Homo sapiens: one gene and its partners. The protein of the gene in region 2 purifies or fractionates together with the protein of the main gene of each other region. This does not show direct contact. Each region holds a gene or a part of one and is shown on either strand. Other genes may lie near its edges. The genes, in order: PIP5K1A, PER2, ZNF618, BMAL1, HK1, CEP78 and WASHC4.

What was found.
Region 1: the proteins of PER2 (region 2) and PIP5K1A purify together in Homo sapiens (affinity purification with mass spectrometry; one large-scale study listed by BioGRID and IntAct). This does not show direct contact.
Region 3: the proteins of PER2 (region 2) and ZNF618 purify together in Homo sapiens (affinity purification with mass spectrometry; one large-scale study listed by BioGRID and IntAct). This does not show direct contact.
Region 4: the proteins of PER2 (region 2) and BMAL1 purify together in Homo sapiens (affinity purification with western blotting, with the first as the bait; one study listed by BioGRID). This does not show direct contact.
Region 5: the proteins of PER2 (region 2) and HK1 purify together in Homo sapiens (affinity purification with western blotting, with the first as the bait; one study listed by BioGRID). This does not show direct contact.
Region 6: the proteins of PER2 (region 2) and CEP78 purify together in Homo sapiens (affinity purification with mass spectrometry; one large-scale study listed by BioGRID and IntAct). This does not show direct contact.
Region 7: the proteins of PER2 (region 2) and WASHC4 purify together in Homo sapiens (affinity purification with mass spectrometry; one large-scale study listed by BioGRID and IntAct). This does not show direct contact.

What each region holds. Positions count from the first base shown.
Region 1 is NC_000001.11:151,229,552-151,233,051, forward strand, and holds part of PIP5K1A (phosphatidylinositol 4-phosphate 5-kinase type-1 alpha), read left to right. Parts: intron 1-2,119; coding exon 2,120-2,250; intron 2,251-2,696; coding exon 2,697-2,814; intron 2,815-2,999; coding exon 3,000-3,152; intron 3,153-3,500. UniProt on the Homo sapiens protein: Catalyzes the phosphorylation of phosphatidylinositol 4-phosphate (PtdIns(4)P/PI4P) to form phosphatidylinositol 4,5-bisphosphate (PtdIns(4,5)P2/PIP2), a lipid second messenger that regulates several cellular processes such as signal transduction, vesicle trafficking, actin cytoskeleton dynamics, cell adhesion, and cell motility.
Region 2 is NC_000002.12:238,250,611-238,254,110, reverse strand, and holds part of PER2 (period circadian protein homolog 2), read left to right. Parts: intron 1-408; coding exon 409-1,199; intron 1,200-2,349; coding exon 2,350-2,512; intron 2,513-3,367; coding exon 3,368-3,500. UniProt on the Homo sapiens protein: Transcriptional repressor which forms a core component of the circadian clock.
Region 3 is NC_000009.12:114,047,309-114,050,808, reverse strand, and holds part of ZNF618 (zinc finger protein 618), read right to left. Parts: intron 2,917-3,500; coding exon 2,815-2,916; intron 2,159-2,814; coding exon 642-2,158; 3' UTR 1-641. UniProt on the Homo sapiens protein: Regulates UHRF2 function as a specific 5-hydroxymethylcytosine (5hmC) reader by regulating its chromatin localization.
Region 4 is NC_000011.10:13,368,290-13,371,789, reverse strand, and holds part of BMAL1 (basic helix-loop-helix ARNT-like protein 1), read right to left. Parts: intron 2,173-3,500; coding exon 2,023-2,172; intron 1-2,022. UniProt on the Homo sapiens protein: Transcriptional activator which forms a core component of the circadian clock.
Region 5 is NC_000010.11:69,321,847-69,325,346, forward strand, and holds part of HK1 (hexokinase-1), read left to right. Parts: intron 1-3,500. UniProt on the Homo sapiens protein: Catalyzes the phosphorylation of various hexoses, such as D-glucose, D-glucosamine, D-fructose, D-mannose and 2-deoxy-D-glucose, to hexose 6-phosphate (D-glucose 6-phosphate, D-glucosamine 6-phosphate, D-fructose 6-phosphate, D-mannose 6-phosphate and 2-deoxy-D-glucose 6-phosphate, respectively).
Region 6 is NC_000009.12:78,249,575-78,253,074, reverse strand, and holds part of CEP78 (centrosomal protein of 78 kDa), read right to left. Parts: intron 2,830-3,500; coding exon of another isoform or gene 2,762-2,829; exon of another isoform or gene 2,570-2,761; intron 1,171-2,569; coding exon of another isoform or gene 1,168-1,170; coding exon 1,032-1,167; intron 1-1,031. UniProt on the Homo sapiens protein: Centriole wall protein that localizes to mature centrioles and regulates centriole and cilia biogenesis. Involved in centrosome duplication: required for efficient PLK4 centrosomal localization and PLK4-induced overduplication of centrioles.
Region 7 is NC_000012.12:105,142,231-105,145,730, reverse strand, and holds part of WASHC4 (WASH complex subunit 4), read right to left. Parts: intron 3,279-3,500; coding exon 3,173-3,278; intron 2,605-3,172; coding exon 2,488-2,604; intron 1,445-2,487; coding exon 1,276-1,444; intron 1,014-1,275; coding exon 859-1,013; intron 1-858. UniProt on the Homo sapiens protein: Acts as a component of the WASH core complex that functions as a nucleation-promoting factor (NPF) at the surface of endosomes, where it recruits and activates the Arp2/3 complex to induce actin polymerization, playing a key role in the fission of tubules that serve as transport intermediates during endosome sorting.

The DNA of each region.
Region 1 (3,500 bases), on a different chromosome or scaffold from region 2:
GGTTTCTCCATGTTGGTCAGGCTGGTCTTGAACTCCTGACCTCAGGTAATCTGCCTGTCTCGGCCTCCCAAAGTGCTGGGATTACAGGCATGAGCCACAGCACCCGGCCATTTAGCTCTTTTTATATGTTGAACATTAAGATAAAAAGATGAGTTTCTATTATAACTGGGGAGGCAGGTACTTAAAAAAAAAAAGAAACTAATAATTTATTTTCCTTTGACCTATTTGTACATGAAAAAAACTAGTTGTAGGCTGGGCATGGTGGCTCATGCCTGTAATCCCAGCACTTTGGGAGGCCGAGGCAGGTGGATAACGAGGTCAGGAGATCGAGATCATCCTGGCTAACACGGTGAAACCCCATCTCTACTAAAAAAAAAATACAAAAAATTAGTCGGGTGTGGTGGCTTGCGCCTGTAGTCCCAGCTACTCAGGAGGCTGAGGCAGGAGAATGGTGTCAACCAGGGAGGCGGAGCTTGCAGTGAGCCAAGATCACGCCACTGCACTCCAGCCTGGGCGACAGAGCGAGACTCCGTCTCAAGAAAAAAAAAACAAAAAACTAGTTGTAATTTATTGCCCATTGAGGACCAAGTAGAAATATAAGTAATGCCTGGCCGAGGTTGGGGATGAGGCAAATGGAGCAAAGCTATCTAATCAAAGTTTCTGCAGTGATTGAAATGTGCTGTATCTGTGCTATCCAATATGGTAGCTAGTAGCCACACTTGAACTGTAAGTAGTAAGACTGAGAAAATGAAGTTTTAAATTTGAGTTAACTTAAATTTAAATAGCCATGTGTACCTAGTGGCTACTGTTATCAGACAGCAAAGATCTAGATGATGCGATACTTTCCCACGGGCTTGGAATCCTGGATTGTAAGAGTGGGGCTCTTGTATTTGTGTTTTGACCAAGTTTGATAATTCTAAGTCTGAATACTGCTCTCAGAAATAATTTGAGTCTTTCATGCTTTCTTCTTCAGTTAGGAGCTCTTTTACCACACTGTTGCCCTTTTTTTTGAGACAGTCTGGCTGTGTTACCCAGGCTGGAATGCAGTGGTGTGATCTTGGCTCACTGCAGCCTCCGCCTCCCAGCTTCAAGCAATTCTCCTGTCTCAGCCTTCTGAGTAGCTGGGACTACAGGTGCACACCACCTCATCCAGCTAATTTTTGTGTTTTTAGTAGAGACGGTTTCACCACATTGGCCAGGCTGGTCTCGAACTCTTGGCCTAAAGTGGTCTGCCCACCTCAGTCTCCCAAAGTGCTTGGATTAGAGGCGTGAGCCTCCGCCCGCGCCCACCCCACCCTGTTGGCCTTGAGACACACTAGTCAGGCCCTTCCTTAGAGGACTGAAGTTTCTGCCGCCAGGCAGTCAGATCAGAATATTGGTTAATTTTAGGGCTGGGCATGGTGGCTCATGCCCGTAATCCCAGAGCTTTGGGAGTTCTGAGGTTAGGAGCTTGAGACCAGCCTGACCAACATAGTGAAACCCCATCTGTACTAAAAATATAAAGAATAAGCAAGGTGTCGTGGTGCATGCCTGTAATCTCAGCTACTCGGGAGGCTGAGGCATGAGAATCGCTTGAACCGGGGAGGCAAAGTTTGCAGTGAGCCGAGATCATGCTGCTGTACTCCATTCCAGCCTGGGTGACAGAGTGAGACTTAGTCTCAAAAAAAAAAAAAAAAAAAAGGAATATTGGTTAATTTTAGTTACATTCGATATCAGATGAAGGAAATGTTTAGAGGGCTCCAGATACACTCTGGGGGCAGAAACCTTAGGAGTGAGAACTAAGAACGTTGTGTCAATACAATGTATCTTCCAAATACAAATATGGAACTCTTGTTTAGGCAGGCCAACAGGAGGGAGCACCTTGCCTAGCTGAGGCTGGCTCAGAGAGTCCCAGCTTTGCTACTCTGTATCCTCACTGTCCTTCCAATCTTTACTAAGCTTAATTGCAGAGTACAGCATAGGGATGGGGAAACTGGATTGTCCCAGTTTTATCTGAACTATTGCTCAGACTAAAGGATGTTTGTTTTAAAGTGTTCCTTCTAGCTTCCCCTTTCTGAATTTTTATTGTTATGATCCTACTTATACTAGGAATTTTCTTCTCATTTCTCTTGTTTCTCAGACAACCTCATCAGCCTTGAAAGGTGCCATCCAGTTAGGCATTACCCACACTGTGGGGAGCCTGAGTACCAAACCAGAGCGTGATGTCCTCATGCAAGATTTCTACGTGGTTGAGAGTATCTTCTTTCCCAGGTACAGAGTTTAATGTTCAGGAGCATGTCCTGGAAATGTGGCCTTTTCAAATCAGCCCAGGGCAGTTTTAGGGGTTCAGGTCGGACAATTTAGACATGTGTCCATTTCTTAACCTGGTTACAATCAGGGCGATGTGGGACTAGAGAGTTCGGAGAGCAGATACTGTCCTCTAGATGCTTCCATTAGCCTCTGTCCTATGGATTGACCCGTAAAAAACAACCTAATGCATTGGATAGGAGGCAGTGTGATTTCTTCTTCTTCTTATGTCTTGCTGTCCATGCTGTGCCATTGTCTCACTAACTCATCTAAGAAGGGCTGTGATTATCTTAGGAGGAATGTATTCCCCCACTCCCCCCACCATGAGGTGACTCTGAGTGTCTTCGCAAGGTAGATTCTCTGGATGATAGGGACTGGCAAGTTATGGCTACCTCTGTTTAACCCCACAGTGAAGGGAGCAACCTGACCCCTGCTCATCACTACAATGACTTTCGTTTCAAGACCTATGCACCTGTTGCCTTCCGCTACTTCCGGGAGCTATTTGGTATCCGGCCCGATGATTACTTGGTAAGCATCTGGATATCAGGACACTGTGACTCCAGTATCAGAGGGATATTCCCAAAGGAAGGCCCCTTTTCTCCACAGTCTCGCTCTGGTTTTTATTTAGAAAAGAATTGCATCTGTAGTTGATTTTTGTGTTGGGCAAGGCCCTGATGTGTCTAAATCTCTTAGTTCTTCTCTGTTTGCCCCAGTATTCCCTCTGCAGTGAGCCGCTGATTGAACTCTGTAGCTCTGGAGCTAGTGGTTCCCTATTCTATGTGTCCAGCGACGATGAGTTCATTATTAAGACAGTCCAACATAAAGAGGCGGAATTTCTGCAGAAGCTGCTTCCAGGATACTACATGGTAAGGGAGAGAGAAGCACTGTCCACCTGTGCTGCTCACTTCTGGGCAAGGCTGGGGAGGCTGTCTTCAGCAGGGTAAAACAGTGTCAGCACTTCTATCTTAAGAGTGTAGTTCAGGCCAGGCACGGTGGCTCATGCCTGTAATCCCAGGACTTTGGGAGGCCGAGGCAAGAGGATCACAAGATCAGGAGATCAAGACCATCCTGGCCAACATGGTGAAACCTCGTCTTTACTAAAAATACAAAAAATTAGCCAGGCGTGGTAGCGGGCGCCTGTAGTCCCAGCTACTCAGGAGGCTGAGACAGGAGAATGGCGTGAATCTGGGAGGCGAAGTTTGCAGTGAGCCGAG
Region 2 (3,500 bases):
AGGTCAGTGGCTCTCCCGTTCAGATTTCACTAACCAATTTTTCCCCCAAATACTGGGGAACAGCAGAGACATGACAGCTTTTTAGTGTATTTATTTAACAAATAGAACTTTGTATTACCACTTATCATATTAGCATTTCATAAAAGAAAGGACATTTAATACCAGAAGAAAATAAGGAATGTGTCCTGCAATTAAGAGCTTGTAATTTAAGTTGATTCAATTTAGTTTTATGGAAAAACCTGATGTTTTGCCCTGATTTTTCTCACTTCACTGAGGATCAGGGAAAACCGCTCGGTGGACCAGGCAGGCCCTGGGCCAGCATTTGGAAACCCAGGACTGTTGAACGAAGAGGTGTCTTCAAATTTGGAGTTAAAATTTTAACTCCGAGTATTTGTTTTTCTGCATTAGCTGCCCCTGGACTAAGAAATACTTCCGGAATAGATTCACCTTGGAAAAAAACAGGAAAGAACAGAAAATTGAAGTCCAAGCGGGTCAAACCTCGAGACTCATCTGAGAGCACCGGATCTGGGGGGCCCGTGTCCGCCCGGCCCCCGCTGGTGGGCTTGAACGCCACAGCCTGGTCACCCTCAGACACGTCCCAGTCCAGCTGCCCAGCCGTGCCCTTTCCCGCCCCAGTGCCAGCAGCTTATTCACTGCCCGTGTTTCCAGCGCCAGGGACTGTGGCAGCACCCCCGGCACCTCCCCACGCCAGCTTCACAGTGCCTGCTGTGCCCGTGGACCTCCAGCACCAGTTTGCAGTCCAGCCCCCACCTTTCCCTGCCCCTTTGGCGCCTGTCATGGCATTCATGCTACCCAGTTATTCCTTCCCCTCGGGGACCCCAAACCTGCCCCAGGCCTTCTTCCCCAGCCAGCCTCAGTTTCCGAGCCACCCCACACTCACATCCGAGATGGCCTCTGCCTCACAGCCTGAGTTCCCCAGCCGGACCTCGATCCCCAGACAGCCATGTGCTTGTCCAGCCACCCGGGCCACCCCACCATCGGCCATGGGTAGGGCCTCCCCACCGCTCTTTCAGTCCCGCAGCAGCTCGCCCCTGCAGCTCAACCTGCTGCAGCTGGAGGAAGCCCCTGAGGGTGGCACTGGAGCCATGGGGACCACAGGGGCCACAGAGACAGCAGCTGTAGGGGCGGACTGCAAACCTGGCACTTCTCGGGACCAGCAGCCGAAGGCGCCTCTGACCGTAAGGATTTTCTGATGCTCTTTCCCCAAAGCAGGCAGCAAACAGCACACCTGGCAGGCCGGCCGCACATCCTCAGTTCAGACATGGGGGTTACACGATTGAGGTTTCCACCAAACCCTGTAGGTTTTGCCATGAATGTGTGTGCCAGAAATTCATGCTTCCCACTTAATCCTATCAGAGTAGATTATTCGAAGCCTTTTATTGTCGTGGAATCTGAATGAAGGAGGAGAGATTGTGATACAGACTCCAGAAAGCAGCATGTGACTTGACAGTATTTGTGGGCTTCGACTTTTTAAATGACGCTTCAGAGATAAAGCACAGTCAGGTTAAATACCAGAGCTAGGGCTCCTCAGGGTGTGGCGCCGGAGCCTGGCTCAGGTGGCCCCGGTGAAGGCGGAGAAGGAGGGGGACACAGCCCTAAAACCAGCGTGACCTCAGTTTCCATCCTCCGCAGGCGTAGGGACACTGTGTGAGATTCTTAACCAGTTAATGAAACGGTAGTTGTATTTGCAGTTAAACGCTTGTGTTTCTGAACGAGCTCAAGTGTGTGGGAACGCCAGCAGCAGTGCAGTCCGTAGGCCTCAGGCGATTCCCTGCCTTGGCCAGAGGACCTAGGGCTCCCGGGTGAGGAAGTGCAAGCATGTAGATCTGTGGAGCTTCTCCCAGTCCTCCTGCCACCTCCGGGCTCCTGCTTCTGGAGTCCTGGGCCTGCAGTCTGGGTTTCCAAGGAGAGGAGGGTCAGGGATGCTCCCCAGGCCAGGCCCCGCCCTCAATCCCAAGGCAGCCCCCACACCGGGTGCTGTGAGAGGCGTTTTCCCCATCCATGTCTGCTGCATGTGAGGAGGGGGCTGTGGCCAAGGAGCAGCCTGAGGCTTTCCCCCCTGGAGCCCAGGTATTGCCGTCTTCCATGTGACTCTCCGAAAATTAAATGTAACTAGACGGCATCCATAGAGCATCAGTGGAATTTGCACCGTAGGCCTGGTGGTGATGCGTGGTCTGCTCGTTAGGCCGTCCCTGGCCGTGAACCTTGCAGCCGCTCCACAGCACCCCTCCACCCTCACCCCACTCATGCCCCCCACCCCCACCCCGCTGCATATGCTGTGTCCTGACTGAGCCCCTGAACAGCAGTATCTGCTTCCTGTCCCTAAAGCGTGATGAACCCTCAGACACACAGAACAGTGACGCCCTTTCCACGTCAAGCGGCCTCCTAAACCTCCTGCTGAATGAGGACCTCTGCTCAGCCTCGGGCTCTGCTGCTTCGGAGTCTCTGGGCTCCGGCTCACTGGGCTGCGACGCCTCCCCGAGTGGGGCAGGTATGTTGGCCCTGGCGGGGTGTTAGGCACTTGGGAGGTTCCTGCAGGATGCACTGCTCCAGAGTCACAGGCCGGCCTCTGTGCTCAGAACAGGGATCACCGGCACTCCCCAAGCAGCTGTCAGAGCCCATGCAGACACCCACACAGACACACTCTCCCTGTTCAGCATGGCTGGCCCTAGCTAGTCAGAATTCCACATCCTCCCTGTTTGCTTCTGATTTCAGTGCCTACAGGCCTCACACCCTGGCTCCTTGTGGGACCAGCCCTCTGACTCCCCAGATAGTGGTTTGCCTTCCTGCTTTAGTTCCACTTGTGTGAACTGAGGGTATGGAGCACCTGCAAGCCTCTACCCGCTGGGATCTTTCACATGTGATCTGGAATCTCAGGCACCAGAAATGTACACACTCTCCACAAAATTGAAGCTCCCCTACTTCTCTGGAGTGAGCTTTCACCTCGCCTCCCTTCGCAGGCGTGCTGCACAGGTGAGGCTGGCTAGGGAGCGCTCCAGGCCAGCTGCCTCCCCTTGTGGGAAACTGCAGTGCCCTGTGGTCCACATGAGTGGAGATGGTGAGAGCTTGGGAGAGAAGGTCAAGGCTTCTAACACGCAGCTCCACCTGAGCTGCTCAGGGCTTCACAGGAAAGAATCGCCTGCATGGCACTAGCAGAGATCCTGTTTCCTAATTACCCAGAGCATTCAAGAAGTGGGAGAGAAGGGGAACATGCACCGGCATAGATACCCAATACCTAAGAAGGCACTGGGCTCTCTCAAATCATTCTGACTTTGAGGAAGCACATTATGCAAGGTTTAATTTCATATGTCAATGTTTTGACGCACCACGTTTTTTGTTTTTAAAGGCAGTAGTGACACAAGTCATACCAGCAAATATTTTGGAAGCATTGACTCCTCAGAGAATAATCACAAAGCAAAAATGAACACTGGTATGGAAGAAAGTGAGCATTTCATTAAGTGCGTCCTGCAGGATCCCAT
Region 3 (3,500 bases), on a different chromosome or scaffold from region 2:
AGTGTGGAGAGTCCACAGCAGAGCAGCCGAGTGTGTGGGGGGGTGCACAATGGGATCAGGAGGGTAGGAGGGCTGGAAGAGGGTCAAAGAGGGAAAAGGAGGACCGGGGTGAAGGACAGAGAGCGTCAAGTCACTTCAGATCTCAGCTGCCTGAACATTTCACAACATCAGCTTTCTGCCAATCTGCACACCTGAAAGCGGAGTCTTCTAAAGCCCCCTTACTGAGAAAAGGAGGTGAAACATCTCCCTCTTTCCCAATCGCTCAGCTTTCCTGACACGCCCAGTTCAATGCACACCCGTCCAAGCACAGGCGTATGTACACGCACCAGGGTCGTGTGTGTGTGTGTGTGTGTGTGTGTGTGTGTGCGTGTGTGCAAAGTTTCTCTGGCCATGGAGATGAGCACAGAGACCCCCCCACACCCCCACAACCACAGCACGTGTTCAGACACGTGCACACACGTGTGGCTGTGTACATACACGCACACACACACATATAAAAAAAGCACTTAAGTTTCCAGGGGGCATTTATAATGAGGTCCACAGTGTTTAGAACTTAAATTCCTTTTCTTTGTGACAGTGTTGTGTGGTTTTTTTCTAATGTTATCTTCTCTTTTTCTTTTTTTTTCCCCCGAAGTCAAGTCTTAAAGCATGTTGGATTTCAGAAACATGAGTTTATTCATATCTTCTGGACTGAGCAGCCGCCTCCGTTTGATTAGAAGCGCTTGTTCACACATATTTACACACCCGCTTCTGGCGCCCACGGCCGGAACCGCCAGGAGCCAGAAGGCGAGCTTGGCGAGTTTTGTGTGCTTTTGGGTAACGCACGACCAGTACTGGAAGAGATCAGGGGTAGCCTGGAAGAGGGGCTCCTGCAGGTAATCGTACACTTCATTTTTGCCTAGCCGATCATCTTCCTGAGCTGCGGGGTTCTCGACGGCAGCAGAGCGGGGCTTCTTGGCAGCGGGCTCGAAGTCGGCCTCCTCGGCCCAGGACTCCTTCACCTCGTTGATGAGCTCACAGACCTTGCCGATGATCTCCTCGTGCTGGTAGGGTGGCACAGGCCGCAGCTTCTGCTGCGGGTCCAGGATCATGGCCACCTTGTGGGCCGGGTGCACCTTGAAGTTCTCCTTGAGCGCCTCCAGGAAGAGGTGGCAGAGCTTGCTGACAGTGCCTGCGTCGTTGGCCTTGGCCGTGAACAGCTTCTCCAGCCTGACGTAGGTGGGCAGCACCAGCTGCAGGGTGGGCTGGCTCTCGTTGCTCAGCTCGATGACTGCCTGCTTCACCGGCGTCAGGATGGCCGCCAGGTTGCTGAGCAGGTGCTTGTTGAGGCTCTGGATGAGGTTCATCTTCTTGGCCCGGCTGTAGAACTCGCAGATCTGCTCATAGCGCTCATGCACCAGCAACAGTGAGTCCGTCACCGAGTTCCAGCAGGGTGGTGGAGACGTCTCCTCCAGCGACCCGAAGGTCTCCTTGGCCAGGCCCGTGGAGCCCGCCAGGTCCTCGCACACGTTGAGCAGCTCGATGACCTCGTGCATGCTGCGGGCCTGCAGTGTCCGCTTGCTCAGCACGCTCTGCACCACCGAGTTCAAGGCACAGGCTGAGCAGCGAAGGCACATGCCGGCCTTGGAGAAGGCGGACGTGCTCACCCGGCAATCCGTCACGTACACTGTCCTGATCTCCGACATCACGAACTCCGACAGCACGTTCTGCACCCAGTGGTGCACAAGGTCACCGCTGTCGCGAATGTCCGCACCCTTCACACCAAGCACATAGCTCTTGATGTGGTTGCCCTCGGCCTGGTAGGCTGTGAGGATGTAGCAGGAGTCAGGGCCAACACTCTGGGAGTGGCAGGTGACACCGATGCCTAGGCAGGCATTGCTGCCCAAGGCACAGGTCACTTTCACCTTCACCTGGTTGTACATGCGTGGCAGGTGCTTCAGCGCCAGCGTGTTGAAGTTGCCCAGGATTTCAGTGACCGAGAAGGCCCCATAGCGGGCACCACTGTCTACTAAGGTCTGGGCCAACTTCAGGAACTCCTTCCCGCTGACCACGCTCAGTGCACCCAGGTCGGCACACATGACCCTCAACAGCCGCTCTGCGATGTTCTGCCGCTCCTTTTCGGGGATCATGCTGTTGGGTGTTAAACCACTGGTAGTGGCTGGCAGAGGACACAAAGACAGATGGGATTAATTCTGGCATTCAAGGCTGCTTGGAGTGGCAGTAGCCTAACACTCTAAACATCTAGTATTGGGAATGGCAAATATATTTCCTCTTGCACACACATGGGTGGTGCTGGCTGCCTTTAATATATGATGGTCTCACAGGGATAAAGTTCTATGATTGATTAGTAAGGCCTGCCATGAGCATGGGAATAGAATGTAGTGGTATGTATGCAACATAATTGCGGTCTATGTCATTCCCCTAGATCTTTGAAGCCAACTAGTCTAATTTCTTCCTCAATACAGGAATCTCCTCTAATATGGGAATCTTCAGGAAATAAGATACATGGGATCATCATGTCAGGAAAGAGCAACCAGCAGAAATTGTGGAGAGGTGGGTTCTAGTTCTGATTCTGCCACAAATTGGTGCTTTCTGACCACAAAAAAAGTCACCTCCTCTCCCTGGGCCTCCTTCTGCCCATCCCCTGAGTTAAGAACTCCTGCAAATAAGGTCTTAGGTGTAAAAGTGCTTTGGAAACTATCATGCATCATCTTACAACATCACAGGAAGCACAAATGGTGGGAATGGGGGGCAGAGAGGAACAACTGGAGCATAAGGGGACCCTCAGGTCCAGCCCTGCTTGGGGAGACCTACTGTTATTGGCACTGTTCCTCTGGGCCTGAGGTTTCCACTTCTCTTCTACAACAGCAGGTGGCGATCGGGACTGGTTGGAGGCAATGTTGTTTTCATTGTCAGCTGTGGGCACAAAGGGGACAGTGTGTTACCTGGAAGGGTAAGAGGCCTGTTGAGGAACGAGATGAGAACTAGAGTGTGGTGGGTAACAGCAGAATGTGGCCATTGGGACTCAGGCCTGGGTTAAAATCCTGGCTCCTCCTTAGACAACTATCTATGCTTGCAAAGCCTCATTTTCATCATTTAGAAAAACTAAGGTAATCATATGGACATTACACTATTGCTGGTAAGACTAACAAGAGCTAATCCAGGAAGAGCTGAGCACAGTGTGTGGTATGGAGCAAACTCTCTGGAAATGGGAAGCACTGGATCCCAAGCCTGGCTGGGAACCCCACACCTACTCCCTGCACACAACCACAGAGTTCTAGCTGATATGGAGGGAAGGGAGGGAGTACCAGCTACACCCCCCAAGTGGCCAAAAACTCCTCATACTCTCTCACTTTCGCAAAGTTTGCATTTTTTAAGTATATTTACTAGAAATTTTATGAAATGAACAAAACAAAACCAAAGCCATGTGTGACACAAAGTACCAAATTATCAAACCCCTCACTGTAAGACATGGAAACTGAAGCTCGGATATAAGAAAA
Region 4 (3,500 bases), on a different chromosome or scaffold from region 2:
CACAGCCTATATAGGAACTGGCCAAGAGCTCTGTGTGGTTGAAGTGAAATTGGAGGTACTGGGAGTGAGGGGCAAATTGGAAAGGCAGGTTGGAGGAAGATTAAAAGGGCCTTGGATTACTTTCTAACCAATGTTGGTCTGTCTTTTTAAGGCAGGAAATGGAGAGCATCTACAGGTATTTAAGTGCAGAAACAGCAAAATCAAATTGTGGTTTGGATGCTGTAGGAGCAGAGTGACGTATGAACTGGAAGACAGTAGAAAACAGAAGTAGGAAGGCTGATTCAGGGGCCAGTGGCTATAATACAGCAAGAGATTAGGAGGACTGAACTATGGCAGTGCAGTGAAGATGAGAGGGAGCAGAGAAAGAAAGCAGGAGAAATTTCTGAGATCAAACTGTTGGGATTTGCTGTGAATATCAGGCTTAAGGGAAAGAAACAAATGAAGATGACTCTAACTTTTCTGGATTGGGTGGTTGCTGGTGTCATTCACTGACTCAGAGAAGAAAGAAAACAGACTAGAAGAGAGAGAGAGAAAAAAGATAGTTCGATTTGGGACACATTAAATGTGGAGCACCTATAGACTTCACCAACAAGCAAACCACTATGGAGTGTCTGCCAAGCGTGGAGTCTGTGCTGGTTACTGGAATAGAGTGAAAAACAAATCAGACATGCCCTTGTGGAGTTTACAGCCTAGTGGGGGAGACAGACTTTAAACAAATAATCGCACAAATAACTATATAACAGCAAGTATAAGAAAGCACTAGAAAGCAAACCAGTAGGGTGCTATAAGACATAAGGCAGTCTGAGGTTGGAGAGAGCCATGTGAAGGGAGTTCATGGGGAGAGGGAAGAAATTCCAACCAGGAAGCGACAGCATGTGCAGAAGCATTGCCCAGAAGGGGCTTGAGGCATCAAAGGAAGTCAACATGGCTCACATGTGCTTAGTGGCAGGGTCGGGGGCTGCATGGTCACGTTAAATATTTTGAGCTTTTCTTCAAGAACAATAGGGAACACTGAAGGGTTTTTAAAAGGGGACTGATAAAAAGATCATCCTGGCTGCTGTGTTGGGGGTGGGGAGCATGTGGGTCTACACTTTATGAGACCTGGTGAGAGTTGGGGGCAGCCTGGAGCTGAGTGAAAGTAGGCAGCATGGAAAGGGACAAACATTTCAGAGAACTTTTGCAGATGGGACTCATTGTGGCAGGACTTCATAACTAACGGGATTGAAGAGTGGGGTGGTGAAGCAGAAGTGAGGGCACCTCCCCGGCTTCTAGCATGAGCAGCCAGCTGAATGGCAGTGCCATTTATGCTGGAGGAGAGGCTCAGGTGATTACTTCGGCACGTATCCTGTTGGAGACTCCCCTGAGATATCCAAAGCAGGTTGATTTAGTAAGCAGTATATTTATGAATCTGGAGTTCAAAAGACAAGTCTAGGCTGGAAATATGAATGTGGAAGTTGTTGGCATTTAAAGCTGAGGGAGTAGATGACATGACCAACAGAGAGAGACTGCAGACAGAGATGCAGCCCAGGACAGAGAGGGGCAGCCAGCAAAGGGGCCAGCAAGAGAGCCTGTAGCAGCAGGGGGTCGGGGAGGAGGAAGAAGAATGTGGTTTCATGGAATCCAGGAGAAGAGAACACTTCAAGAAGGAAGACAAAGGAAAAATGTTCATCGCATTTAACAACATCAAGGTCACTGGTGAGCTCAGAGTAATTTTGGTGGACTGGTGGCTGTTCATAAGGCAGTTAGGATTGTGGCTGAGAGTATTCTTCCTCAATCATGTTAAAAGAAACACAATTTAAACAGAGGAGGCCTCTCCACAAATCTCTGCCATCAGGCTTTTCAGCTCTCTCCTCTGCTCCCAACTGCCCTACACATAGGGAGGACTGCAGGGTCCTGTCTGCAGTCCTGGGACCTGCCACTCTGGCCAGCCAGAAACCATGGAACCAACGCCCAGCTGAGAGCTCCGCTGCAGAAAGCATGCTTCACCTGTCACAGGGTTTTAATGGACTGTTAAATTGTTACCTTTTTTCTTTGAGCAGGTAGAGGGGAAGTCCTTGTCTTCAACCTTTACTGAAGGCCTGTTACACTTCATCCTACAGAAGAAAGAACGTCGTGCTCCAGAACATAATCGAGATGGCCCAGGGGTTATATCTGTTTTAACTGGAAGTCCAGCTGCAAATCAATACACAAAATGTGATAAACTGAGAGCAGTGTTGTCTGTCAGGAGGGGGAGTGTGACCTTGAGCAAAGCCTTTTCTTGCCTGCCTCACTGTTTTATAATGATGACATGAGATAAATATCTCCCAAGTTTAGGCTTTAACAGATGCAGCATGGACAGGTGTGTTGTCAGTCTGGAAATGTTTATAAATCACAGAGTGTGCTACTAAATAAATGGATTAGGTACTCTGGGGATGAAAAGAAATATAGTATGGGGTTCTTGCCCAATAGACGCTTATGGCTAACAAAGGGCAAATGGAGGTGCACCAAGAAAAGATTAATAATAGGACAGGGTGATGTATGATTAGTGCCAAATAAATGGCAAAGACAACCTGTGCTTCCCAGAGGAGAAGGAACTTGGGCTGGCACTGAAGGATGGGTAGGATATGGATATTGGGAAGGCAAGGTGGGAGCCGGACTGCCTTAAGTTCTCAACCTGGCTTGTAGGCCAGAATACCCTGGATGCATGATCAACCTACAGATTCCTGGACCCCATTCTAGATCTGTGCTGTCCAATGCATTAGCCACTAGCTGCATGCAGGTACTGAGCACTTGAAATGTGGCTTTTCTGAATTGAAATGTGCTGTAAGTGTTAAATACACACAGGATTTCAAAGACAGTATAGAAAAATAAAAGAATGTGAACGAACTTATTAGTTGTTTATAATTATTACATGCTGAAATATTTTGGAGTTAATTTTACATTTATTTTTATTTTTTAAAGTCTGGCTACCAGAAAATATGAAATTATATATGTGGCTCATGTTTGTGGTTTGCATTATGTTTTTATTGGACTGTGCTGTCTGGAAAAACCAAATTAGAATCTCTGGGGGTGGAGCATGACTATGTTGAAAAGCTCCCAGGTGATTCTGAGGAGCACACCTCCTTACCAAACACTGGCTAGGTGTCAGTACAGAAGCCGAGGGAAAACACACCCATGGCCATCACACGAGCAAGTGTGCCGAGGAATGGCCACTGCCCAGGGCTCCTTCTGGGCTTCCTCCCATCCCATCTACCTCCCACATTGCCAGCTCTGCGATCTCCCCTAGAATGCCAATCCGAGCCTGCCCCACCCAACTCAGAGCTCTTCACTGTGTCCCCACAGAACAAATGGTCTTCATGGTTCAGCCCTTCCCCTCCGTGCACGTTTTGTCCAATAGCACCAAGCAAGCCATGTGGCTCCACACCCCTGCACCTGTGCACAGATTGTTTCCTCTTTGTTCCTCCCTTCATTACCTGGCAAACATTAATTCATCTTTTCAAACCCACCTCGGTTGTCATCTA
Region 5 (3,500 bases), on a different chromosome or scaffold from region 2:
AGAGGGTGTACTGGCATTAGGCTGAGCTAAGCACAAAACACATATATTCCTTTCACTCTTCTAGTGCCTGTAGGAGGAAAGGGAGGCATATGTGTGCTTGTGAAGGATTCCATTCATCAGAATCCCAGACATCTGCCAGTTCTGCAGCTAGAGGCTGGGTTCTTTGACCTCTAAGTAACTTTAAACACGCATCTCATCTCGCCAGCTTCTTCCACTCGGTTTAGCCATTAGGAGCTTGGAGCAGGGTGAAGGATTGCATAGTGCTCTGTTTGTTTAGAAAGGGAAGATGGGTCCAGGAAGGTCAGAACTTGGCTTCTAAAGAAAGATTAGACTTCCTTTCCTCCAGGCTTGTCAGAATGGTGAGCAAATGCCAGTGGATTTTCTCTGGGCGAGATCCCCATAACGCTAAGTGATTTCCACTAGTAGGTGATCATGAAAAGGGTGTCATTTCTTTCCTCATTGCCTTGAGGCACATCAATAATTCAACTCCATAAAAATATATCCTGGGTTGAAACAGTTCAGGTGTCTGACTTCCCAGTTTGGAACCCCATTATCCAGACGGCATCTGCATAAATTGGTTAATGGGTGCTGTTGAAGAGAGTGTGATTTGTCCAATGGCCGAACTCAGGAGTCCTTGAGTACTTGACCCAGGAAGACAGGGGAGAGTAGGCTTAGCAATTAAAGGGTTGCCCAAGGTACATTCCTTAGAGCCTATGTGTTCCAGCTGCAAAAGCAAGCATTAAAAATAAATAAATAAATAAAAGGCCGATGTAGTGGCTCACACCTGTAATCTCAGCACTTTGGGAGGCTGAGGCGGGTGGATCACCTGAGGTCGGGAGTTCGAGACCAGCCTGACCAACATGGAGAAACCCCGTCTCTACTAAAAATACAAAATTAGCTGGGTGTGGTGGCGCATGCCTGTAATCCCAGCTACTTGGGAGGCTGAGGCCGGAGAATCACTTGAACCTGGAAGGCAGAGGTTGCGGTGAGCCGAGATCACGCCATTGCACTCCAGCCTAGGCAACGAGAGCGAAACTCCGTCTCAAAAAAAAAAAAAAATGCCCATTCATTATTGCTCAGGGGTGAGAGAGGTGATAGTTAGAAAATTGTGAAAAATCTGGCTGGGCACAGTGGCTCATGCCTGTAATCCCAGCACTTTGGGAGGCTGAGGCAGGTGAATCACGAAGTCAGGAGTTCAAGACCAGCCTGACCAATATGGTGAAATCCCGTCTCTACTAAAAATACAAAAATTAGCTGGACGTGGTAGCATGCACCTGAAGTCCCAGCTACTCGGGAGGCTGAGGCAGGAGAATTGCTTGAACCGGGGAGGCGGAGGTTGCATGAGCCAGGATCATGCCACTGCACTCCAGCCTGGGCAACAGAGCGAAACTCTGTCTCAAAAAAAAAAAAAAGAAAATTATGAAAAATCTGTGGGTTCTTGCAGTGGCAAAGAAAAAAAAGAAAAAATTATGAAAAGTCAGCCTGGGCAACAAAATTAAACCTCATCTTAAAAAAAAATTTTTTTTAGCCTGCTTTGGTGGCATGCACACACCTGTAGTCACAGCTACTCAGGAGGCTCATTGAGCCCAAAAGATTGATCCCAAAACAGTGAGCTGTGATGCTATGATTGTGTTACCGTACTCCAGGCTGGATGATAGAGCGAGACTCTGTCTCAAAAAAAAAAAAAAAAAAAGAAGAAAGAAAATTATGAGAAGTGTCTCATAACCTCTCAATTCTGATGTTGTACAAATATTCAGTGAGAGCTTCTTGGTGAATCTTGACTTTATAATCCCTGCCTTTCCTACCTTAGATACTCCTAGGGTTTCTCCCAAGAGAAGCCCCATCACTTTATCTGGTTGGATAGTTTGGGAATGTCATGAAGGAATAAACTGGCAGGCAGGGTGTCTGTGAGGTGCTTTCACATCTGGCCAAGCTGTGCCATGCTCCCACGCTCCTACTGTTCTCCGGAGAAGACATAGGCAGCTTTCCCCTTACAAGACTGATTTGGCATGACTGGGACTGTCTGTGTGTGTCTGCAGTCAGGGATTCCTGGCAGACAGATTTAGCCACTGGAATCACCTCTGAGCATGCCTGAGAAGGTCCAGGGAAGACATGGATAAAGACAGGGAGCTGTATACCTCTGCATCCAGGAATCAGTTGTGGTCAGACTGCTGGCACCTGCTTATGGATTTGTTTTTATTTTTTTATAGAGACAGGGTCTCACCATATTGCCCAGGCTGGTCTTGAACTCCTGGGCTCAGGCAGTCCTCCCGCCTTGGCCTCCCTAAGTATGCTTATTGATTTGAAAACCCTGAAGATCAAATCTGATCACAGGAGCTCAATCATTTCTTTAAAAAATGTTTGATTTTTTTATTATGTGCAGAGGACTGTGCTAGGCTGGGGTGACAACTATAAACAAGGCAGAAACGGTCCCAGTTCTCATGGAGCATAAAATATTTGCTGGCCGGGCGTGGTGGCTCATGCCTATAATCCCAGCACTTTGGGAGGCCAAGGCAGGCTGATCATTTGAGGTCAGGAGGTCGAGACCAGCCTGACCAACATGGTGAAACCCCGTCTCTACTAAAAATACAAAAAAGGTGCCAGATGTGGTGGCTCATGCCTGTAGTCCCAGCTTCTCGGGAGGCTGAGGCAGAAGAATCACTTGAACCTGGGAGGCGGAGGTTGCAGTGAGCTGACACTCCAGTCTGGGTGACAGAACGAGACTCCATCTAAACAAAAATAATAATTAAAAAAAAATGAAGTATTTGCTGTGTTATATGTGCAAAGCATATGGGCTATGAGGGCCCACAGCATGGTGTGGTCATACCTTGGGTGGGAAATCCCTAGGCTAGGAACTGCTTACAGCTAGGCTGCAGATGTTAGCTCCTTAAGTGCTTCAGGAAGCTGCTCCCATCCCCAGTTCTGGGGATGTGTTAGTCTGTTTGGAGTAGCAGGACAGGTGCCCACTGCCTTCTGGCCTAATAAACCTTAACAACGGGATCTTTTGCAACCACTTAATATACACTGGGTTGTGTTCATTGTATTTGATCTTAAAGAAAAATAGGTAAAAATTTTACAGTTTGATTGGTCTTGATTTCTGGAAATAACATTGACTTCTGGTAAACAGTACACATCAGGGATATTATACTTAGAAACTTTGTAAGGTGGAGTCAAAATTAATTGTCACAAAAATGTGTATTTTTTTTTTTTTTTTTTTTTTTTGAGATGGAGTCTTCGCTCTGTTGCCCAGGCTGGAGTGCAGTGGCACGATCTCAGCTCACTGCAAGCTCCGCCTCCTGGGTTCTCGCCATTCTCCTGCCTCAGCCTCCTGAGTAGCTGGGACTACAGGCGCCTGCCACCACTCCCGTCTAATTTTTTGTATTTTTAGGAGAGACGGGGTTTCACTGTATTAGCCAGGATGGTCTCGATCTCCTGATCTTGTGATCCGCCTGCCTCGACCTCCCAAAGTGCTGGGATTACAGGTGTGAGCCACCACACCC
Region 6 (3,500 bases), on a different chromosome or scaffold from region 2:
GAGAAAATTGAACAATTTAGCAGAACGGCTTTGGGATAAGACTCTGAAGATGCAGGTACTTCTTATGTTTAGGATGGTTCAGATTTCTAATCTAACTTCTTTAACTGGTGATATTAATTGTTCTCTAATTCACAACTCCTTGTGACCAAGATGGGACTTGAAATTAGTAAGTATCTCAAGAAGATATGAAACTGTGAAGTTATTAAATGGAAGTGTAAAGACTGGGGCCTCAGCACTATAGTTTATGCAATAATAATTCACATTACCAGTTGTGAAATAAGTATAGTCATCAGTTGCCTAACAAAGATTATACATATTCAATTTAATCTGAGCAATTGAACAGATATTTTACATAGCACCTATTTCCAGTCCTATTTAAATTCAATCCTCTTTGTTTTCTTAAGCAATTGTTAATCTCCAATTTCTTGAATACTAAAAGTCAGTCATTCGAAAATAATTTATAGTAATCTAATTCATTTATTAAGCATAAAATTATAGTACAACATTTTTAAAAGACTTTTCTGACAAAAATTACTATGAATAGCTATCACCTAGGTAACTGGCTAAAACTAGTTATATCTGGTTTGATTCACTAAAATGAGTTAGGCCAGTTGGCTGAGTTAGATTAAGTCTAATCAACACTTCCTATCATTTTGCATTGAACAATTTCCTATGCTTTACAATGCCCTTTCCCCAGTCTTAAATATCCAAATTCCTATTTCTGCCCTATAGGACTTGGTTTAACTGCACATACTTTAAATGAAACCTTTTCTCACCTGCACAATTGGAGATAATTTCAGTTTCCTCTGGACTCCCACAGGGATACAGCTTGCTGTGACACTTAATAACTTGAAACCCTACTTAGGATTATTTTTTGTTTTTCTTCCTTAAAGGATTCATGAGGCAGAAGCCACATGAGTCATTTTTACCCTACAGACATAAGCAGAGAACTCTCACATAATAGAAGCTCCAAAATAAAGAATTTTGAATCCCATTTTTATCCTAAAAGATAGGAAATAAAAATACCCTACCTGTGTCTTTTTGCACGTTCTGCAGTACGCCACGGCAAGAAACCAGACACACCAGGTGGAAGAGGTGCGGGCGCATAATATTCTTTACCAAGGGAGTGTTTTCTGCCACTACTTACAGGTTTCTTTGTAGCCAATCCTACTTGAGAAGTGTTAAAAAGAAAGAATCAAGATGCACTAAAGGTCTACAGATGAATAGGCACATGTGCATACTCTTAAAAGAATACAAATGGGCACCTGACAATGACACCAAGTCCATTAAATCAGGATCAATTTGTAAATACCTTTTTACACAGGCCAGTAATAAATATAAGAATAAATATATTTTTAATATACTTAAATATAAGTAATAAATATATAAAAATATAAGTTGTCTAGAGTAACAAGTTATCACTTTAACTAAAATATAAGTTGAATATATGAGACATGCAGAGCACGCAAAGGTAAATAAAACATGTAACCCAAAGAATGAAAGATTATACGTGATACATTTCATTATGCATTATGCAGAAATTTTAAGTTATTAAATCTCAGAATATTTTTGGCATTCCTGAATCTCAAGGACAGAACATAGATACACCCATGACTCCTACCAAACAGAACCTTCTGAATTGGAAAAAAATTTCAATTTGAGATTAATTTTATCATGTAAAAGGTATTCAAGTTGTAAGACTAAAGGTAGCTGGATTAATTTTATCATGTAAAAACTATCCAAGTTGTAAGACTGAAGGTAGCTGGGTAGTAGGTGAGCCAATGTTGCCGCCTATAAGTCTGTCCACCTTCAGTGTTCATTTGCTTTTACAGAACACAAAGAAAACAAATGAAACCTACTGGATAATAGAACGAAGTATAAAGTCTTATCCTACATTTCAGTTTAAAGAGTCAAGTTTTTTTAAAGAAATATTTGGTAGTAAAAGCTAGACCTACCTATTAATATTAATAAAATTCACACTTAAATATATAATTGTTTCTGATATCACTGAGAACAAATAATATAACTTTATTAAAACGGTTATATTTATCCTTCCAATCTATTTTACTACGTAAGATCTACTTTAGCAGCTTTAGGACAGCATCTACAAGAACATGTATTTGGTAATACAGGACAAATATTTCCCGTGGTGTAACTTATTGATAATTACCACATTGTGCTGTGCAATTTCTCTGGACAAATTTATACACGTCTTATAAATATATAGGAGCTCAGTTCATTGTGTGCTGTTTTTAATTATCCTAAAAAAAAGTTACTGTGTATTGTTTGTAGTATGTGTAGAAAGTAATGCAAATATAAATTTTTTTTTTCTTTGGAGACAAGAGTCTCGCTCTGTCGCCCAGGCTGGAGTGCAGTGGCACAATCTTAGCTCACTGCAACCTCCGCCTCCCAGGTCCAAGCAATTCTTCTGCCTTAGCCTTTCGAGGAGCTTGGATTACAGGTGCACGCCGCCACGCCCGGCTAATTTTTTGTATTTTAGTAGAGACAGGGTTTTACTGTGTTGCCCAGGCTGGTCTCCAACTCCTGAGCTCAGGCAATCCACCCGCCTCGGCCTCCCAAAGTGCTGGGATTACAGGCGTGAGCCACCGTGCCCGGCCGCAAATATAAATTTTAATTAAAACCAAACTAATTTACTTATCTTGTTAGATGAAAAAAATTATAAAGTTTCCTATCTTCTGTCTGCACACGTAATTGCAATATGAATGTGACATAATTTACATAAATTATATAACCCCTATACTCACTGACACCTAACTATTAAATATAAAGCCAGACACTGATTTGGCTTACCTCTGTGTCTCCAAATTACTGAGGCAAATACAAAAAAAGCCCAAGAAATAAAGTTACTCTTAAAATAGCTCAGTGAGCTTGTAAACTTCAGTCACATTTCCAATTTCTTTAATCATGCTAAGAAAAAAGATTTTTGTTTTTTATTCTCATTCAATGATGTCCAATTATATACCACTAGCTACTAAAATTATAGAATTTCTAATGTTTTATATTTTATGTTAAATTGTTTTATATCTTAGCCATTTTTAAGTGTACAGTTCAGTGATATTAAGTCAAGTGATATCCTTCAAAAATTTAAAGTAGCATCCAAATAAAAGATTATCTGGTGTTAATTGTTTGGTGATCTTAATGTACAGGGTATGAACTAAAGTCACCACAAACCTTTTTCTGGGAAACTGGCAGATTATAAACATAAAAACATTAATTTTTTTCTCTGTAGTAGTCTTCATGGTTTTACTGTTTCAAAATTCAAAGTTACTTACAAGAAAAGGTCACTTTCACATTAGATTTGGCTTAACTTATTCCACTGTCACTCATTCTTATCAGTAAAAAAAGGCTACTTATGACTAAAGATAATGTGTTCTACAAAAGTTAAAGACTCTTTAAAAAAAAAAAGAAAATATCAGTAGAACTAGATTATACCAAATTTATGTATTCAGGAGAATGTAAAATTTATGCCATTAGCTGAT
Region 7 (3,500 bases), on a different chromosome or scaffold from region 2:
TAAGTTTTTATTATAACTTTTATCATATTCTAATCTAAAAATTTGTTTACACATTTTTTCTCCCAGAGGATATTACATGAGCTGGGACTATTTATATTTATCTTTGTATTCCTAAACATAGTTCAGTGCCTAGCATGTTCTCAATAAATATCAGATATATAAATGAATAAATGAAAGGATATACAAAATAAATGAAAGGATATACAAACTGATCCTAGAAATAATCCCTACATGCAGCAAGATAAAGGGAAAACTAGAATCCTCAAATTTTAGAACTGAATAAATGTTTTTTGGTAAATATTATCTGGATCATCTTAAAGAGAACTCCACGCAAATTATCTGATAACATAAATTATTACATTCATGAGACAATGCCATACTGTACATTAACTAATTGAATTAGCAAAGCTAAATGTTTTCCTATACTCCTCATTTTAAGAACAAAAAACACATTTGTAATCATGTAAATTTAACCATTTTTCCTAAGATACTAAATTTTATATACTATAACCAGGCTTAAAATCCTTAAATGTGACTTTGAACTTCTTAAAATTCTACAGAAGTCACTTCACTATTCTAGTGTTTCTGAAAAGCTGTATATAAATATAAATATATATGTATATCTCGAATGCTCAACAGAAGGCTGAATATAAGCAGGACCCCGGTGGTAAATTCCTTTATAAAGCAATTTAGCAGCACCTAATTTTTTACTGTTGTCAAGTATAAGATTTTATATGGCAAATAATTTCTTAAAAAATAAGCACATACTAACTAAAGCAAAAAGAAAAAAGACTTCCTTAAAAAGTACTGTTACAGCCAACAGTCACAGTATGCTAAAAAAAACATTTTATACTATACCTGTTCCAAAGTCTGACTGGGAAGATGTGCCTCTGTCATAACCAGTCCATAACGCTGAGTAGCTAAGTTTCTCATCTCACTATAAGTGGCCCAGTCATGAAGGGCTACAGTTGTTAGATTGTAGAAAGTCTTGTCTAGGTAGTGAGTTACGTAAGCTACCAAAAAAAAAAAATTCAACTTGTGAAACAGTAGAAAAGGAAAAGAAATGAAACCTAAAAGGAAAAAACAACAACTTGTCCTTGAACATCAGATTTGTTCCTTTAAAATAAGGTATTAATAAAAATGAGAAAAGAAACAAAATGTAATTAAAGAATAACAACACAAAATTTAAATATACCCTCAAAGTTTTGTTTAACAGTAGGGTAAAAAAAAAAAAAAAAGAGAATATGACTCTAAGAAGGAAAGCAAAACACTCACCCCGAATGTCAATGAAACGATTGAAAAACCGAATTGGATTCAGAGAGAAAAAAAGAGCCAGGTCTTTCATGCCAACTTTGAAAGGGTTTCGGTCATCCAGCTTTAAATGAGTATGCACAGAAAGTCGCAGATCTTTCTCTATTTCTTTGCATAATTTGTCCAGCAAATGCTATTCACAAAAGATTTGATACTTTAATTTTTCAAAATGATATTGCAATTGTATTGTTTCCCTACATGTCTATGCTCCATTTTAAACCAATAGTTTTTTGGTCAGAAGCAGTTACATAAATTCTAAGTCTTTATTTTCACCAATACCTTAAGGTTAATACTCTTGAAAAGAAAATCTAAAACTAATGATTGATGGTACCATCATAAGGAACATGAATATGCAACTTAAAGCATAAAATTTATGGAAACCAGCAACAAAGGAGGAAAGGGCATGAGAACAGGCAAGAGAGAAAAGAAAAAAGCTTCCTTGTAATAACTGTTAAAAAAAAAATCACAAAATTCATTGTGCTAAAGGTAATAAAATTAATCATCTTTTCTGGTCTACCAAGGAGTTCTAAATTACTATCCAGGCATGTATTTTATTTCCTAAATAAGAATACGTAATACAAGAAATTATAAAAAGTTTTTCACAATTTCATCAAACCCAGGTAGGATTATATTGTGAAATTTCCTCATTTTTAATTCCTCCCTCCAAATAAAAATATCACTAAATGGAAATTTAATTTTAAAGATATCAGTGTTTATAATACATATTTCCTTAACAAAAGGAGGGGCATACATATTGGATTCAAATTACTTTTGTTACACACTAAATCTTTTAAATATATAATTTCCTTCTCTCAGGAGCTCTGCAAATAAAATTCAGTAAAATATTAATGGTTAAGTTGCTTTAACTGGACCATTAGCAGCTTTCAACATTCAAAACCATTTCACATTTGCATTCTTCTAATAAACAACTTTAAATTAAAATATCTATTTACAAAAGTAAATTTAAAATCTCCTAATTCCTAGTGTGATTTCTAAATAAATGAATTACAGACCAATTAGCACAACAGTGATATTGTAACTAAAAATAGTTCTTTGTTCTACCCAGCAATTTATAAATAATTTTAACTCAGTGAGTCTGCTTCAATCGAACATTTTTTTTCCAAACACTACATTCCAAACATGTTTTAAGCTTTTCAATCTCAAATATGATGTTACCTCATTTAAAATTTCCATAATTTCCTTGTCATAGCAATCCAGAAGTATCTCATAGGACTCTAAATGCCTTGCATGCATCATAGCAGGTACACAGTCGCGCAAAGCACTGAACATGTACTAAGAAGAAAATTAAAATGTACATGAATTTAGAAAAACCAGGTCTCTAATCTAAACAATACTGCAAAAGTTAATTATCTTGAAAGACAAAACCTCGATCTGAAGGAAAAATGATTTTCCACAACTGTCTTAACTTTCCTAAAGAAAAAGAACCTAAAGCATATACTTTAACTAAATATACCCAAAAAAAATCACATTCGCTAGTCCTTTCCTATCTTGTGCATTTAAACACACTTATTTCCATAAAGAAAAATATGAATATTTCTTAAAAATATTTTTTCTTTTGCATTGTAATTTGCTGATGAGTAAATGTCAGATTACTATGACATAAACTAAAATTAAGTGAAATGAAAATGATTAGGAACATGAAGGAAGAAATTAAATAAATTAACTTCGTTAACAGTAACATAAAATTTAACTACAGACTATAAACACTTTATGAATATGCAGTTTACAAAACAGTCAATTTTAAAAGTTTATTAAATCAAATGATCTATTTTAAACTAAAACGGTTTACACAGTGACTTTTAAAATGATAGAATTATTCTTTATATTGTTCTTTACTTACATGTAATCTGGCTGCATCAACAGCATTTTCATATACATCATCTAAATAAATTGGGAAGACAGCTCGATGCCAGTATAAAAAACAACAGTCACATTGTGTTTGGACTCTACAATGTAAAGTAGTAATCAGTCACACCAAAACTGAAGAATCCCAAAACAATATGAAAGGAATGACATCTACTACAGAAGGAAGAGTTCCATCTTACACAGTTCGCATTCCCTACATCACTTAACCCAACATAGTATAGAAAAGTCACAAAAGAAATACTATCAAAATGAAACAAAGGTAACAAACACTCCAATGCCTGACATTGTCAGAATTCTGCACA